Homo sapiens: one gene and its partners. The protein of the gene in region 1 interacts with the protein of each later gene in a pairwise test. Each region holds a gene or a part of one and is shown on either strand. Other genes may lie near its edges.

Evidence for each region. The genes of interacting proteins can lie anywhere in the genome.
Region 2: the proteins of CORO2A (region 1) and RSPH1 interact in a two-hybrid assay, tested with the Homo sapiens proteins (one large-scale study listed by BioGRID and IntAct).
Region 3: the proteins of CORO2A (region 1) and DCC interact in a two-hybrid assay, tested with the Homo sapiens proteins (one large-scale study listed by BioGRID and IntAct).
Region 4: the proteins of CORO2A (region 1) and DLC1 interact in a two-hybrid assay, tested with the Homo sapiens proteins (one large-scale study listed by BioGRID and IntAct).

What each region holds. Positions count from the first base shown.
Region 1 is NC_000009.12:98,129,059-98,134,347, reverse strand, and holds part of CORO2A (coronin-2A), read left to right. Parts: intron 1-1,130; coding exon 1,131-1,310; intron 1,311-2,046; coding exon 2,047-2,163; intron 2,164-3,288; coding exon 3,289-3,393; intron 3,394-4,457; coding exon 4,458-4,554; intron 4,555-5,289.
Region 2 is NC_000021.9:42,486,211-42,490,776, forward strand, and holds part of RSPH1 (radial spoke head 1 homolog), read right to left. Parts: intron 252-4,566; coding exon 161-251; intron 1-160.
Region 3 is NC_000018.10:53,532,145-53,536,413, forward strand, and holds the end of DCC (netrin receptor DCC), read left to right. Parts: 3' UTR 1-3,755; downstream 3,756-4,269. UniProt on the Homo sapiens protein: Receptor for netrin required for axon guidance. Mediates axon attraction of neuronal growth cones in the developing nervous system upon ligand binding. Its association with UNC5 proteins may trigger signaling for axon repulsion.
Region 4 is NC_000008.11:13,504,838-13,509,403, reverse strand, and holds part of DLC1 (rho GTPase-activating protein 7), read left to right. Parts: intron 1-4,566. UniProt on the Homo sapiens protein: Functions as a GTPase-activating protein for the small GTPases RHOA, RHOB, RHOC and CDC42, terminating their downstream signaling.

The sequences.
Region 1 (5,289 bases):
CTGCCCAGAAAATCGTTCCCCCGACCCTGCTCCACTGACAATCAAGCATGCAGGCAGTAGGCCCTGTAGATTGGGACCCACAGTACAGGAGACCTCAATTCTATTCCGACTCAGTCTCTGACCTGCACTATAGCCTGGGAAAGTGCCTTGACTTCTCTAGGCCTCAGTTTCCCAATCTGTACACAAATGGAATTGGTGGCACCATAGCTATGGCCTTTCAGTTCTTTCCTTTTGACACTATAGGGGTTTACAGAGACACCTCGGGACCCTCTGTGTTGGATAAAAGGGAGGTGGGGGGCCGGACATGGTGGCTCACACCTGTAATCCCAACAGTTTGAGAGGCTGAGGTGGGAGGATCACTTGAGCCCAAGGATTTGAGACCAGCCAACATAGTGAGACCCCATCTCTACAAAAAAATAGAAAAAATTAGCCAGGTGTGGGAAAATGCGTCAAGTAGTCCCAGCTACTCAGGAGGCTGAGGTGGGAGGATCACTTGAGCCCAGGAGGTTGATGCTACAGTGAGCCATGATCATGCCACTGTACTGCAGCCTGGGCAATCCTGTCTCAAAAATAAATAACTAAAATTGTTGTGGGGAGCACTGAGGGAACCTGGGCCCTCGCTCTTCCGATCCACAGCGCTTTCTCATCTGTTTGTATGGGGTGTCTGCAGAGCTGCTGCGTGTATTTGTGCTGGTTGTTCTATACCCAACTTCAGGGGGCACTAGTCACGTCCTAGTCTATAGGAATGGATTGCCCTGGACCTCTGCATGCACAGCCTGTGCAGCTAAACATACAGCCCTGTTGATCTGTGGGAGGTGCAAACTGCTGCTAATAACTGAAACCGCCTGGATTAGCTGGTTCCCTGGGGTCCTCCCAGCATGGATGTTTTGTTGCTCAGAGGCAGGTGGCGTTTTCCTTTCACCACTAGACAGCCTGGCCCTGGGATTCCCCCTCCTGCCACAAGCAGCTTCAGCCTGCACATCATCCTCCCACTGAGGCTTCTTGGCCAGGCTGCCAGCTGCGCCACCCTCCCAGGGATACTGTGTTTCACTGCATCCTGGCCAGCATGTAACTATGAGGCCCAGGGGCAAGGTGGCCCCTGTGCTCAGAGCTGGCTCTCTGCCATGCAGGTGATGATCTGGAACCTGGATACAAAGGAGTCTGTCATCACAAGCCCCATGAGTACGATTAGCTGTCACCAAGATGTGATCCTCTCCATGTCCTTCAACACCAACGGCAGCCTGTTGGCCACCACCTGCAAAGACCGCAAGATTCGGGTTATTGACCCCCGAGCAGGGACCGTCCTCCAGGTCAGTTCTGGGCCAGGGGCTGGCTCAGGCTCAGAGGAGCAAGGAGCAGAGTGGGGACAGAGAGAGGCTTCAGAGAACAGGACAGTGATGCTGTCAGCGTCTGGGCTGCGCCTTCACAGGCAGCATCCCTGTCTGTCCTCTCGGGATTGCTGGAAGGTGGGATATGTCCTTTCCATTTTGCAGATGAGAAAACTGAGGCCCGTGAGAGATGAAATGACTCACCCCCATGGAGAGCTGGGATCTGAACCTGGTCTGACTCCAAAGCTTGTTGGCGTGCCTCAGCTCTGGCCAGGGGGTCAGGAGAGCCGACGATACCACTGTTTAGCCACTGTGCAGCCTTGGGCAAGCGCTTCCTGCTCTGAGCCTCTGTTTTCTCATTTGCAACAATGGGCTGTTAGTCCTTCCTCTCCAAGGATTAGATAAGACAGGCCAGGTGACAGTGCCCGCCCCTGTAGGGATGCCCAATACTCTTTCAGCAAGAACAGGGCGCTGGGCAGAAGTTTGTTTCTGTTCTTGCTCAGAAAAATAACTCTTAACAAAGATAGTGGGGAGAGACTCCATGTGGATGAGAGGGATCCAGGTGGTGCCCCTGGGAAGAATCTCCAGGCAGAGCTGGGGTGAGAAAGGGAGGCCTCCCAGGTGGAGCGGTGGCATAAGCAAAGCAGGGAGGCCAGAAACCCCAGCTGCCCCCGATCCTCTACTGTCTCTCCAATACCGACCGCACGTGTCCCTCCAGGAGGCCAGCTACAAAGGGCACCGGGCCAGCAAAGTGCTGTTTCTGGGGAACCTGAAGAAGCTGATGTCCACAGGCACATCCCGATGGAACAACCGGCAGGTGGCCTTGTGGGACCAGGTGAGGGCTGCACCCCACCCCTCACCATCACCCCTCAGCTGAGAGCCAGTGTCATTCATTCATGCATGCATTCATTTAGACACCCATTTATGACACACACATTTAGCGTAGACTGCCAGGTGCTGGGGATCCGGGGATGAATAGCAGGGAGATGCTGACAGCCCCGGGCGAGCCCAGACCCTGTGTATCTTGCCACCCAAGGAGGGAGATGGGTCAGGACCCAGGGGAGTCCGTTGGCTAGAGGAGGGGAGGTAGCTGAGTCTGGGACCAGGACTAGGAGGAAGGGAGAAGGAGAGGGCCATCTGGGCTGAGGGTGCACCTGGAGCAAATGAGGTACTAACGGGTATGGGGAGAAGGAGCTTTCATTGGGACAGCTGAGGGTGGAGCAGGGTAGGGTGAGGGCCAAGCTGGCGGTAGTATTTTGAGGGAGCATTTGACAGAGTTTCAAAGACTGGACAAATCACATTTTCTCTCTGAGTCTCCTTCTTCATCTATTAAAATAAATTTTAAAAAACAGGTAGGGGAAGATTGGAATGAGATCGGGTGTGTCAAAAGTGATTTGTTATGGCCAGGTATGGTGGTACACGCGTGTAATCCCAGCACTTCAGAAGGCCATGGCGGGAGGATCACTTGAGGCCACGAATTCGAGACCAGCCTGAGCTACACAGCAGGACCCCCATCTCTGCAAAAAATCAGCGGGGTGCAGTGGTGCATATCTATAATCCCAGCTATTTGGGAGACTGAGGCGAGAGGATCGCTTGAGCCCAAGAGTTTGAGACTGCAGTGAGCTATGATCGCACCACTGCACTCCAGCCTGGGTGACAGTTAGACCTTGTCTCAAAAAAAAAAAAAAAGTGATTTGTTAAGGGCAGAAAGCTGACAAAATAGGTGGCAGCAGCATTTTAGTGCCTTTAAGATGTCATCTCCACTAGAGAGTAGCCCACACATTGGAACTCAAGAACCAGGGACATCTTCCCCCCGCACACACATATAAAAAAATCACACTTTTTCTCTGACACACACACTCTCGCCCAGAGCACCATGGCAGCAATTCTTATCTCCGGGAGCACCACTGAGGGCCCCCAGGAGTGACCCAGGCCTTCCCTGCCTCCCCTTCCCCTGCAGGATAACCTCTCTGTGCCTCTGATGGAGGAGGACCTGGACGGCTCCTCGGGCGTGCTGTTTCCCTTCTATGACGCGGACACCAGCATGCTCTACGTGGTGGGGAAGGTCGGCTTGGCACGGGAGGGAGGTGACCTCCTGGACCCCTGAGACAGCGGCAGACAGCAGCCTGGGGCCATTGGGAACACAGGGCAGGGATGGGCAGGCCTCGCTGGCCACTCTTTCCCTGTGAGAAGGAACCCCTCCCACCCTCCTGGCTCCCTAGGAACACCTGGAGCCAGGGCTCTGGCTGGACACCTTGACCTTGTCTCTTCCCAACTCCAGGCCCAGATGTGGGGGGACCATTGGTGTTTCTCAGCAGGGGCACCTGCTAAACTGGGGGCAGAACAGGTCTCCACTGGGTAGGACTATCCCATGTCTGGCAGCCCTGGCCCCTGCCCACCAGTGCCAAGAACAGCATCTCTCCCCCTCCATCCAAGTCATTATGACAACCAGAAATGTTCCCCATGGTAAGACCTTCTGGATGACCTCTGAGGCCACCCCAGTTCTGACTTTTGCTGCTGCTCTCAGATAGGAGCGGGATTTGGACTTGTCTTCCCAGAGCTTCTGTCTTAGAGGAAAAAGGGTGGGCTTTGGGTCATGGTGGGGGAGGATTGAATATTAAAATAAGGGCCCAGGCCCAGCACAGTGGCTCATGCCTATAATTCCAGCACTTTGGGAGGCCAAGGTGGGAGAATCACTTGAGCCCAGGAGTTCAAGGCCAGCCTGGGCAGCATAGTGAGACCCCATGTCTACGAAAATGAAAAAATAAAAAATTAGCCAGGCGTGGTGGCACACACCTGTGGTCCCACCTACTCGGGAGGCTGAGGCGGGAAGATGGCTTGAGACCAGGAGGTTGCAATGAGCTGTGATTGCACTACTGCTCTCCAGCCTGGGCAATAAAGTGAGACCCTGTCTCAAAAAAATAAGATAAAATCTAAAATAAAATGAATATCCCCTCATCACCCTCCTGCCTTGATGACAGGGCCCCCAGTTTCCTGGTGTTCCCTTGAGTGAGATGGGTTTGCCGATCATCAAAAAAAGCCAGGTCTTTGCTGCATGGCTGGGTTGCTGATGAGCTGATGAGCTCCAGCTCTGAATCTCACCCTCCTCTTCCTTCTCCTCCTCCTCAGGGAGATGGCAACATCCGCTACTACGAGGTGAGCGCCGACAAGCCTCACCTGAGCTACCTGACTGAGTACCGCTCCTATAACCCACAGAAGGGGATCGGTAAGTGAGGGACACTGAAGTTCATGCCTGTAATCCCAGCACTTCGGGAGGCCGAGGTGGGAGAATCAGGGTCAGGGCTTCAGTGCGGGGTCTGGGGAGACAGGGATGAGTCAGATGGGAGGAGAGACAGCATAGCAACACTCTGACTTGGTGGGGGCTGTACTTGACGTGTGCAACAGCACAAAGGAGGAAGTCAGGGAAGGCTTCTCAGAGGAGGCAACATTGGAGGAACTGAAAGAGGAAGCAGAGCCCAGCAGGGGAGAGAGGGATGTGTTCTAGGTCAAGGTTAAGCAGTTACCACAAGAGCAGAGATGGAAAGGGCTGACCTAGAAGAGCCTCTAGGAAGCAGTCCTCAGTTCCTTTCTAAGTGTGCTTGAGGATTAAAAACACAGCTATATTTCTGTAATCTACAAGAAACCCACTTTAAACATAAAGACATGGCTAGATTAAAAGTAAGGGACTGGAGAAAGATGCACCCTGCTAACCCTACTCAAAAGGAATCTGGAGCGGTTTGATTAAGAGCATTTGGGTCACAGGAGCTGTGGGGATGGAGATGGGGAACCTTAAGCAGAGCAAACTGCCTATAAAAGTTCAGCTAATCCAGCACTTTGGGAGGCCAAAGCTGGAGGATCACTTGAGCCTAGGAATTCGAGCCTAGCCTGGGCAACAAAGTGAGACTCCTGTCTCTACAAATAAATAAAAAAATTGAGGTGCATACCTGTGGTCCCAGCTACT
Region 2 (4,566 bases), on another chromosome or scaffold:
CATCCTTGCCTCAAAGCCATAGAAAGATTGGACCTGCCTGGCAGAGTTGGTAACTGGGCTTTTGTTATGATTCTGTTCCTCAGTAAGTGTAAACAATCTGCAGACATCATGTTCTCATTACATAAGCAAATCCCGTTAAGACCCAAGATAGAAACCGAACCTTTGATGAGCAAACCACTCTCCAGTGTAGGTGTCATTATTGATGTAGTAGTATACGCCATGGCCGTGCCGCAGGTCATTTGCCCACTCTCCTGAAAGGAACAACACAAAGGCAAGCCCAGGTGAGAAGAAGGGATCGATGCCCTGTACCATGTCTTCAAATTGTTAACCATGGCAAAGGCAGATGTGTTGTGAAGCAAATGAAGCCCATGCACACACAGGCCCCTTCTGCTCAGGAAATCCTGCAGAAGAGAGATTTTTAACAGCACCGACCAAGGCTGCTATCTGTTTCCACTCTGACATCCCTCCACCCCTTCCTTTTGTGCCAGATGGCATAGGTGCTGAGCCACGGTGGACAGTGGGCTAAGAGAGGGCTGAGTCAGGAGTTCACGGGGTACAGAGTGAGGTGTATGGATGTGGGCCACAGCCACCTGCATGTACTGACAAGCACATTTCACAGGTTAGTCAGAGGCACCACGAAGATGCAACGAGGAGGGAGACAAACCAAGGTTGTCTGACCCATTGCCAGTGATCCTAACACCACACTTCATTTACCTTGCAAATGTTTAGAGATCCAGCAACAACTCCAGGGCTTGACCATCTATCCTCAGCCACCTGGCAGCATTTCAGTCTATCTCCCACCCAATCATCTGACTCCAACATGCCACTCTAACCCCAGCTGCACACCAGCTCCATCCGCTGGTGCCATGCCTCTGTTTGAACTCTTCCCTCACCTCCTCACCTCCATACGGCTTCTGCTAAGTCCTTATAGGCTTGGTAGGCAGTACTGAAATTGGCAAGGATATCATAAAATTCATAATACCACTCCATGATGTGGACAACTGCAAACTACTTTTGTCAACCACAGTATGAATCCCTGCACTAGAAAACTCAAAACGTCCTCAAATCTTACAGCTCACTTAGGAAAGAAACTTAATAGAGGTCTCCCAAAGGTGACTGCTCTTAAAAACGTGCATATTACACCAAGTCATTAAGCTAAATGATATGTTTTGAGACTATGAATAATAAAAAGCAAATGTTGATCAATTTGTTGATCAAAGAGAAAAGAAGGAATTATATTTCTATTCTCTCTATAGAAAACATTACAAAATGGTTGCCATATGGAGAAGCATTCAAAGAGTATTAGCTAACAAAGGTAGAGAAAAGCTATTCTAGAAGTATGTCAGACATTAAAACTCAGGCTACTTAGATTCTGTGATGTTTGTGGTATTTTTAAATTTTTAACTTATTTTGATTTATCATTGCAAATGAAAATTCACTTTTATACCAACTTTATATTTTCTTTTTTTTAAAGAGGTTCTCAAAACTTACATAAGCTTCTGGCTTACACAAAAACTGGACCCACTTCCACATGAAGATAAAGAATACCCAATAGGCTAAGAAAATGCTAATTATTCAAGTAATATTTGTTTATGTGAATAACCCCAAAATTTATCTGCAGAAGGAACTTCTACATATTTATTTCCTCAATCATCCCATTATTTACTCAGCACCTACAATGTCCTGGGCACTTTGTGAGATGAACGAAGAGCTGTACAAAGGACAGTGCATGTCCCCAGGGCGCGAGCACCAGCCTGAGGATGGAAGGTTGGCACCTGAGCAGCAGCTGAGGACAGGGAAGGCAGCACGAAAAGCTGCATGGCACAATTTCAAAAAGTGGGTAAGTCATTCAGAAAAGAGCAGGCTTACCAAAAATTCATGGAGAGAGGGAAGGTGGCAACTGCTAACAATTAAGGAAGAGGACTAGGTCCCATGATGTGATGTGTGACAGGAACAATGTGAACAAGAGAGATGAAGATCCCCAAATTGAGATAATTCAGTAAAAAATACTTCAGGTCCCTGAACCTAAATTAACCATGAGGATGTGCAAATACCTAGAGGGATTTGTCTGGGTCTTAAGGGGCAGTGATGTGCCTGGATTTGTAACATTTGCCAGGTTCTGTGGTGTAAATACTCACACCGCGGCCAATTTCAAGCTACACATGGAGCTGGGAAGAGATGCACAGAATGGGTTTTTGTGAGCTACTATGAGGGGGTTCCAGCACAGCCCTGGGGCATAGAGACCTCAGCTGAAACAGGTACATCATTTGGTTTCTTCCCAACAAAACTTCATGACAAAATTATTACATCCCTCCTCTCTTGGCCATGTCAGAGGATCTCCAGGGTGTCATGGTGAGAAAAATATATTACATATTTTGCAGAAAAATTTCAAAAATAAAAGAGAACAGTTAAGTTGCAAAAGACACTAAATTTTGCACCAAGAGGACGGTGAGCAAAATTTTTTAAAGTCCCAATCTACTTAAAAAACCTGTTAAGAGGCTCGGCCCAGCATTTTGTAATGCCACCACAGGGACCCTGCACAAATAGAGAAGGTAATTCAGAGAAAAGTCACCTGCTGAGGCACATCTCTAACAGCTATAAGTCAAGTTTCCTTTTTTGAGGTGAGTGACATTTGTAAACTTTATTATTGTGGCTTTAAATTTGCACTTAATTTTTTTTTTAAAGTCTTTCTACCCCAATCCTATACTTTCTGATCATTCTTGAACTTGTCAACTGAGGTTTTTTCCAACTATATTTCTTCTCAGGAGTAACTCCCAGTTGGTTGGTTGGTTGGTTGGTTGGTTGATTTGTTGGTTAACTGGTTGGTTGGTTGGTTGGCTGGTTGGCTGGTTGGTTAGTTGGCTAACCGATTGGTTGGTTGGTTGGTTGGCTGGCTGGTTGGTTGGTTAACTGGTTGGCTGGGTGGTTGGCTAGTCAGTTGGCTGGTTGGTTGATTGGTTGGCTGTTTGGTTGGCTGGTTCGTTGGTTGTTTGGTTGGTTGGCTAGTCAGTTGACTGGTTTGTTGATTGGTTAGCTGTTTGGTTGGCTGGTTGGCTGGTTGGTTGGTTGGTTGGTTGGTTGGCTGGTTGGCTAATTGGTTGGTTGGTTAGACAGTTGGTTGGTTAATTGGTTGGTTGATTGGTTGCTTGGTTGGCTAGTCAGTTGGCTGGTTGGTTGATTGGTTGGCTGTTTGATTGGCTGGTTGTGGGTCAGTTGGCTGGTGTGGAGCAGGTGCTCCTTGGGTAGAGCAGTTTGTCTGGCACTTGGGATTGAAGACAATTTAAAATGAGAAGCTCTCCAAGATGCTCCTCCCCCCTCAAATGCTGGTTGGTCACTGGTTTGCCATGCTGGCCCATGGTCTTGCCAAGTTGGCTCCCTAAACTGCTGGGTCAGCCAAACACAGGAGAGAAGGAGCCCACACTTATGGGGAAACACTCGGTGTCAGACCCTGGGCAGGGTTCCGTGCACTTGCCACAGCATTTGGTATGTGTAATCGCTGAAATATGGTTTTACAGATGCAGAACCTGAAAAGCAGAGAGACTGCATGCATTCCCCAAGGTCCCACAGCTGGTGGGTAGCAAGACTGAAATGAAAATTGGAGTCTGTCTAACACCATGCTCTCTTCTCCACAAGCATCCCAACAGTCAAGTGCTCATTTTTTCCAGCTCCTGCCATTCGGGGGCTTCCAAAAAACCCAGGTTCAAGTTATCATGTCATTCTTCTTTCTCCACAATGTCATTCTTAAACTTCTTTGTTTTGATGAGTTCTGTTTGACAGGCAACAAGGCCAGCAGGGAATAGGGATGCTCTTTCTCCCCCTTAACCTCAGAGTCCTCAGTTGGCCCTACACCCCCAACCCTCAGCATCAGTACATGGGGTCTAGGCCTCCCCCACATCTGGCACCCACCCTCCCCTCCATCTCATCCCCCACTACCCCTAAAAACCTCGGCCTTCCTGCCTGTATCCAAGTCACCCGCCACCCAGGACCGTCTCCCCACTCCTCTCCTGCAGCACTATAGCCTCTGCTGGCTCCTGGACTCCCTAATTGGACTTGTGTGACCATCTGGGAGACAGGTAGGGTACTGGACTTTATGCCACAGGGTCCTGACGTTGAACACACTGCCCTGCACAAAACCATTCTGGCCCATTGTGATGGCAGCCAGCCAAGATACACTGTTATGAATAACTCAGCCATACATTAACTGAGATTTTGTGATTGGAAGAGTATTGGCTTACTATGTTATAATTAATATTATAACTTCTGACCTCAGTTTCCATTGCTGCCTTCATGAAGTAAGACACTTATTTAAGCTTTTGTCAGAGAAGAAATCTCTGGGTAGTGGCTAAATCTTGCACCCTTTAAGATACAAAGCCATCTGGAGAATCAAAAATCCCAACTGTTACCAGAAGAGCTTTATATGTTAGTGTGGCATAATAAGAAATATTGGTCTTTATTCATGGTTCCCAGCACAGAGCTCCTAAAACCCTTGACATTTCCTGACTGATAGAAATGTTTTTGTTATTCAAAATGAGACTCTTTTGACCACACCTGAACTTATGCAAATGA
Region 3 (4,269 bases), on another chromosome or scaffold:
TTCAGCTCTGCCTTTGATTTCAAGCTTGAGTAGGTCATAATTTTAAAAGAGCATGGAAGGGATAGGATCTTTACAACCTAATAGCTCCTTTTATTAGGTGGGTAATTATATATGAATCCCTGAATAAAATATTTTGAGCAAAATGGCACTGTAACAGAAGTAATAATTCAGTTTATTTTTTTACAGTTTTATGTCGGGAAGGAAATCTGATGTCAAAGAGAGGGCTGTTCAAATGGTTCATTAGAAAGTCCGGTCCATTTGCGAATTTGTTCCTTCAACAAGAGTGCTCATTCAAGTTACTCAGATTTTCTGGAAGTCTTTTCTGAAGAGCTATGTGATGTTGTTCTATGGGACAGACTACTCTTATTTAACATCTGGGCACTTAGGTAGACAACCTTCTACTGACCTGGAATAAAGTGTTTCCTAACATAATATTGAATTATTCAGAAATAATCCATTACTTCAAAAAAGAAAATATTCATTGGGCTAGCCCAACCTTCTCTAGGCCCTAAGAATTATTACCTCCCCTTTCTAATTCTAGCAAACATGGAACATTCTCCTTAGGCACTTGACACCCACGAGGGTAATCCTGAGTGCTCAGTTTGGAATAGGTTGCAAATCTCAGATTTTAGGGATTGAGTCACACCTTCAATCTATAGAATGAAGTTGACCAATTAAAAAAAAAAAAAAAACCTATCATTTTCACAAATTTCTAGATCCTTCTAGTCAAAAATAATTATTTAGGAAATAAAATTTTTAAAAATCCATTTAAATACATGTTATTTGTCTTCAGTGGAAGTTATATTTCTGCTGCATGCTTTTGAAACTTTCTTCATTAAATAGAATGGTTTGTCTTAGTAACTGGCAATGCCAGTATTAGCACCATGCATTTAATCTATAATACAATCAATTTAAACATCCTCAAAAAACTCTAGTATCATTTACCTGGTAGTATTAATATACAATGATGTCACCACAACTTTTGTATAACTCTGTTCCCTTTACCCTCAAATGATTCATATATGTATATAATTGCCTGCCCAAGTTTTCAGGTAACTTATTAATTTCCCAGTCTCCTGATCTCTTGACAAGAAGAAACCTGTGAATACTGCAAACTAGCCTCTGACTTCCTCCTACTGAGTCTAGTTCATGGTATCCAGGACTCTTTATGCTCATAACTCTCTCTGATTCCCATTGGGTGATACCTGACAGCCAACCAGCCGCTCTGCCACCAGAACTCATTTCTCCCTGAAAAAGAAGAAAATCATATTTGGCAGAGCATTCTCTGGTCTGCCCTGTAATGTGCTTAAATGTCAGGCAACATCCTCTTTTTTTTAAAAAAAATGGTATTTTTCTTTAAATTTCACCCTAATAAGAAAGCTATTTTCTCTCCTCTGCAGAAATTTCTGCATTTGTGAAACTTATAAAAATTTAGATAGTTCAAATGTATAAAGAATATTTGGATGATGCTCTAGCCAAAAGTTAAATATTTCGTAGTGAATCATAGCCAATAAGAAACCAGTCATACTTGCCTCTTTGAATAACAGAGATATAAGCTTCTAGAATATTTAAATAATGAAGTTTTACATTTGGGTATTATAAAATGCATACTCAATTGAATGAGCTGAAAAAAATACCAAGCCAGTGATATAAGTGGAGATTTATTAAGGATTCCTGTTGAGTATATTCTTAGTTTCCTCAAAATAGGGATTATTCAAAATTAGGTGTATGTTCAATCTCCTGCTTTGGTTCCAGCTACACAAGGAGAGCCATCCTGTGCTAGTGTGATGTTTCAGACAACATTCTGAAACTAAAATGTTTGGCACTTATTGGCTTTTCCAATAAAGAATCTCTTAAGTACAGGTATTTCTGGAAGCTGTTGGTGTCTGTGCTTGAAGATGATTGCTGATACTTATCCACCCTTTGGGTACTTCTGTTGACTTTGTTTAAATAATCATCTTATGGTTGTCCCCAAATGTAATATGGTATCTCAGATATAGCAGCTGGACTGTAATTACAACAAAAGGTTACCTCTAAAGATAACATCTTACCATTTTAGATAAAATTGTGTCCCAGAATTCTTATGGTTTCGGAATGTACATTTCTAGTCAATGAAAGAAAGAAAAATGGAAAAATTGTCTAGTTTCAGGCATGTTTAAAGAAAACAAAGTCATCTGAACTTTAAAATAGATGCAGAGCAGGGTTACTTTCCCTTTCACTCAGTTCCCTTCATGCAACCACAGGCAGTCCTGCAGGCCAGAGGTTACTATCCTAACCTGCTCATAACCATATACTATACAGAGCCCACAACTTTCTGGAGATGCAGAAGCAGCCATACACTCAAGTCTCTGTTTTTGTAAATCACATTCAAAGCAACATTTTACTCATAATTTGCATTTCTCTGGTGACTTTCAGAAATCACTTTAGTATTGTACAGAAAAGCTTTTTATTTGAGTCTAGTGTTTAAAATTAAATTGGATACTTGGGAAAATCATAGATAGGTGTTTTGTATGATATTCCATTCCAATGCAAAATATATGTACCCATGCCTCAATGTATCTTGCTATCTAAATACCTGTTGCCAAAAAGTATTGATTTGGGAAAAAAAATGCCAATTTCCTGGTCAGTGAGGTTATGTAAAAGACAAAATACCACACCCATATCAGCAAATGAATATTACTACTCATCTGGACTCTTCGTTGCCACTATTGCATAACGTTCACGTGGCAGACTTCCAGTTGCACTCTCTGAAGGACTTTTTTCTCTTACTCTCAATAGAGAGCCTTTGTACATTGTCATCCTATGATTGTTGTTGGTAGAAGAGCAAGAGCAAAACTCTGCAAGATTTAATAAACACAGGGGCATGGGCCAAGGGATCTCACTGTGTGCTGAACATGTATTTTCAGATGCAAGAAAGGAATGATGGAGAGGAGGAGAAATGCTGTTTTTTATTATTGTAGGGTAAATCTGACAATTCTGAACTTTGTGAATTGTCAGCTTGTTTGGGGGAAGGGTGGGCGGGTATGGGGTGTACTTTTTATAAGTAATATTTAATTTATTATTTAGAGTGGCTTCTTTTTGGATAATTTATGATAAAAAGGGAGATCTGGTTGGGATCTAGATACGGCTGTTAAAGCTGCAGTGTTCCATACCTCAGAGGGACCACTTTGGAAATGAATTGTCCATTGCTGAGTATGAAGAGATGTCCAGTCCAGGCAAAGCCTTCACTGAAGTTCCATCATCGCCACTTCTCCCTTTTTAGGGTCATTCAAAGAAGATAACACCAAACCTAAATAATTCTGAAAGCATTTTGCAGATCAGTGCTACTCATTCAAAGGGCTTTGCAACTCAAACAGATTGTTAGTGTGCTAGTGATAAGTTTATTTGGTAGAAATGGGTATACTACAGCTTTAACTAGCCTTAGTGAGAAAAGAAATTTTTTGTTGTTACAAAACACCTTTTTTAACAAAAAGGTATTTTGAGCCTACAAAAAGTTTCTTTAAACTGTCAGATTCTAGCATTGTTAACCAAATTAGACTAGTGATTGCAATATTTAAGTGTAAATCTTGTTCTACAAGAAAGGAAACTTGCTTACAGTTTAAAACAATGACTGTTTCTACACATGATCTTGTATACTACTACACAAGGAAAAGGGGGTTTTGTAAACACTGTAGAACAGTCTCATATTCATTTTTTTATAGAAATGTTATTCCAATGGTGCATTTTTTGTTTAATAAATAAAGTTTTGATACAAAGTTCTTTTTTCATGTTATTTATAGTAAATGCTGTGCCACACACACAACCACAACCTTGCTTGTCTGTATCCTTAAGATTCATTCTCTTAGTCCATTGGTGTTGCTGTAAAGGAATACCTGAGCTGAGTAACTTAATAAAGAGAAGAGGTTTAATTAGCTCATGGTTCTGCGAGCTGTACAATAAGTGTGGTGCCAGCATCTGTTCCTGGTGAGGCCTCAGGCGGCTTTCACTTATGGTGGAAAGGAAAGGGAAATCCACATGTGCAGAGATCGCATAACAAGAGAGGAAGCAAGAGAGAGAAGCAGGGCCGGGCGCGGTGGCTCATGCCTGTAATCCCAGCACTTTGGGAGGCCGAGGCGGGCGGATCACGAGGTCAGGAGATCGAGACCATCCCGGCTAAAAACGGTGAAACCCCGTATCTACTAAAAATACAAAAAATTAGCCGGGCGTAGTGGCGGGCGCCTGTAGTCCCAGCTACTTGGGAGGCTGAGGCAGGAGAATGGCGTGAACCCG
Region 4 (4,566 bases), on another chromosome or scaffold:
CCCAGGTAGGACACCAAGCTAACAGAAGTAATTAAGTTCCTAATGACATCTTGTTCCTGATTTCAGTGAAAATTGTGCTTATGGAATGACTAAAAATGTAATTCCCTACTGTCAACTTGCTATCTGAGCACCTGGGTTGATGTAGCTATATCTGTTATTTACGCGGAGTGATTACTGTGTCTACTGTTGGAGTGTTCTTAGAAATGATAGCAAAGCTAAAAATAAAGTGACCACTTAAAGCAAAACCGCATCTCACCATGATGATGATAAAACATTATAATCCGTGTTCCTTGTTGAATAAAAATATCTTTTTATAATACAGCAAACCACATTTCAATCATACTGCTTTGCCATCAATAATAAAAAGGTCAGCCACACGTTTAATATCAACTTTAACCCTAGGCTATTTCCTGTTACATGAAAAATTTCAAGTGAAACAAGATCAGAGGAAAGGCAATACTTCTCTTTATTGTAAGAGGTTCTACAGAAAAGAGATATTATGGCAAAGAAGATAATTATTCATTAATGAATTTATTTGCAGAATTAATCTAAGGTACAATGTATTTGTAAATGCCCAAATTATTCTGCATAGGATCAAACAGTACTATTAAGAAGATTGCATACTTAAAAAAAAATAAAACATGGAGATCCAAATAAAACATAGATACTTAGAAATTACTACATCTGGCCGGGCGTGGTGGCTCACGCCTGTAATCCCAGCACTTTGGGAGGCCGAGGTGGGCAGATCACGAGGTCAGGAGATCAAGACCATCCTGGCTAACACAGTGAAACCCTGTCTCTACTAAAAATACAAAAAAATTAGCCGGGCTTGGTGATGGGCACCTGTAGTCCCAGTTACTGAGGAGGCTGAAGCAGGGGAATGGCATGAACTCGGGAGGCAGAGCTTGCAGTGAGCCCAGATCGCGCCACTGCACTCCAGCCTGGGCGACAGAGCGAGACTCCGTCTCAAAAAAAAAAAAGAAAAAGAAGTTACTACATCCATAAAGCAATATTGTCCCACATGGCTCTGTTAATTCTGGGATCTCCTAGAAACCAATATCCCCAGAAAGATCTCAGTGATATCAGGAGAATATCATAAAATATTCCCAGTTTCCTCAAATTACATGCGGGTTGCTTAAGAAAATGTTAAGAGAATCTCCAAATCTGGCTGGCTTGAGCCATAAAGTGGGTGGTAAGTCAAACACTGCCAGTATCTGCTCTCCTCTCTGCAAGAAAATTAGACACTACTGGAAGCGACATTAAATAGCAGCAACCTGGACGTAAAAATAGAGCACCGCTGAAATAATAGCTTGCAGTTTTGCAACACCCTGCTCTTTTCTCATGAGCTGACTTCTAGTGGATTGAAAGAGTTAACTTTCAAATTTGCCTGAATCACTGAGGGCTAAGAATAAAAAAAATGTTTTAAGTTGAGTAAAAACTCAGATATACCTAAAAATGGGTTAACAATAAAATAATATTTTTCAGCTGGGTACCTATTTCTTCATTTTTCTTCTAAAGACTAAACCTGATGGAACGTTGGATGTGTATTTTGGAAAAAGTGAAACACTACTTATTCCCCTTACTTGGCTCATTATAGATGACTTATTCTTTAATTTGGTAAAGTTTTTGATGCTTTCCAGACAGCCTAAAGACATGGAAGCTACTTCATATATAATATTTTAATCTCCATTAAGCAATTTGCCAATAAAACTTTTAACAGGGATTCATGTTTTCCACTAACATGTAATGAGGTATAACAAGTACATTCCAGCATTAAACAAAGTATGTAAAAGTAGAGGAATAATGATTTTGTGTGGGATTAAGACACATATTGCTACTAAAGAAAGGGAATCTGCATGAAATCATATGGAGGTAAATTCTTGCATCATGTTATTAAATGTTTATCCACCCACAGTCTAATTCTAGTCTTGTCTAATTTAGATTAGATAACATGAATATTTTAAAGGAAAAACACTAATTGTTTTTTACTGAAAGTTGGCTGTCTGGACTAGACTCATAGAAATGCTTTTTAGAAATGTGCTCTTACGGTTTTTGCTATTTGTTTGTGTATTTACATAAAGGAATTAAGAAACATAATATCTTCCCTGGGCTTTCTGGCTTCTAAGCATATGTCAAGTCAGTTTGGTCGTAAAGAGCATTCCTCTTCATTTATCACTGAGCTGTGTGCCAGTGGGAAGGCGCCCAAATGTACACAATTTAGTTTGCTAGGTAATTTGTTCTTTGACATTATCATTAAGAAAATGGGTTTCATTTTGGCTTCCACAAATGCTCTTTGTAATGAAGATTTACTTTGACATGAGTTGAAGAACTATATTAAGTTGTGCTCCTGTGATCATGTCTGTTTCCAGGTTGTTGATCGTCTTTTCTAGTTGCCTAATTCAATTCAGTAAGTGTTTTGGGGGCACATACGATGTACAAGTGTGAGTCCCCAAGAGTAGGCTAAGATACAGTAAGATTTCATATCATTACCAGATATTCAGGTTTCCAACATATGCATCTTACTAAGGTGACCCTCACCACGTAGCAACAAAATGTGCCAAATGTAGAGGTGTCTTCTTCTTCGTTCATATGCTGAGAGAGCATTTTAGAAACTGTTAAGTTGCGTTTAATTAACATGAGATTATTTCCCTTACATCTTCTCTTCCTTCCCACAGTGACTAAGCACATGCTATGCGATAGCTGTTTTATGTAAGTGTGTGTGTATATTTATATACATACATATGCACACATATATATTTGGGTGCATGTGTCTCTCTGTGTGTATATATATGTGTATATATATATATATATATATATATATACACACACACACACATGTGTGTGTGTGTGTGTGTGTGTCCATGTGTGTGTATGTGTATAAAGCAGTAGGTGGAGAACACGACCTAGAAATTTAACATGGGATGGCTAATCAGGATGAAAAACTCTAAGGGAAACCAGAAGTAATTCTAGCTATCTAAGGAAGAAGTAAGAAAAGAAAAGTAAAATGGCAGTACTGTTATGTCTTTATTTTCCCTTCCATTAAATATTCAGGATATTTAATAGAATATCCTAGAGTCAATCATGTGTTCATTTATTTATATCAATATATATGTGTACACACACACACACTCTCACAACCCAGAAGTCAATAGCGTGTTCATTTATATATATGTGTGTGTTTACATATACATATTTATGTGTGCATGTATTTGTATACATATGTGTATATATGTGTGTGTATACACACATATATATATCACATGTATTCTCAAAGGACTGCTTTATGTATACACACACATATATGTATCACATGTATTCTCAAAGGACTGCTTTATATATACACACACACATATATGTATCACATGTATTCTCAAAGGACAAAATAAGATACCTGCATTTGATGGGATGAATACAAAAGTTGCCATCTTTCCAAGTACTGTGAGTGAGGGATTCAGGAAAAGTGGGAATTTGAGTGAGAATTCCCCATTTATGTGCATGTACTAATGTAATGCTATTTATATGTTATTTTATGTATCTTAAACTTCTATTCAGATAACATTTTAGGAAAACTATGGCTTAGACAATTCCTAAGAATACCTGTTCCAAATTTCAGGAATTCCCCAGGAGAGTTAGGGAAGGAAAGGAAACTGAAAGAACTGACCTAAGAATCTCATAGAAATTGTGCTGACATTGGTGACATAAGATAAATATCCAAACTGGCACCTTTTCTTTGCTACGTACATGAGACTGGTGTTTGTGTAATTGCGAGGGGATGCTGTGGTGAGGGGGAATGGGGCAAAAAGAATGGTTTGGCCCCACCAGACATATTGCAGAAGAACTGCAGTCGTGTTTATGCATCAGCTTAACCTTAAAATTACTGCTGTAGAACATTTTAAAATTTAAATTATTTTTAGCATGAATTCTGAAATCCAGAGATAAGACTTTCTTAGCAAATGGCACACAATATCATAATACTTTAAATTATTTTTAGCTATGTCTTCTGATATTTAACTCTGTATTTCTAAACAATATGATTGTACTATGATTTTTTTTTCTATTTTAAACATTATCTGTTAACTTCCTGCTACAGAAAGTGACTATCTCCCTTAAATTATTTTCCCTGCTCTCCCTAATCTCACTCCTCACAGAATCCTATGCACTGAAAATCATTGCTTCATATGTTTTGGTTAATTTAATGTTTACTATTTGCATTATTTTGACTACATGAAAAAAATTAGCCACAGCTTATGGAGTATACTATAATTATATTTTCCTTCTTGTAAAACTATTTTTCCTGTGGTTGATAATTGATATCCCTAGTGTTCTCTATAACTATTAATAATTCTTCCATCCAAATTGCTTGACTTTATTATAAAATTCCTCTCAATATGTCATATATAATTTATTATTTCCCTTTTTTTAGAGACATCTCCCAGAGACAACTTTAGGAGTTATGTGAAATGATTGACCACTGGACTTGCTACACAACTTTTATCCTGAAAATTCTATACCTTCCTCACTTGTGCTGAATTCTTGGCTTCCTTTTGCCATGTCTTTCCCACTGTG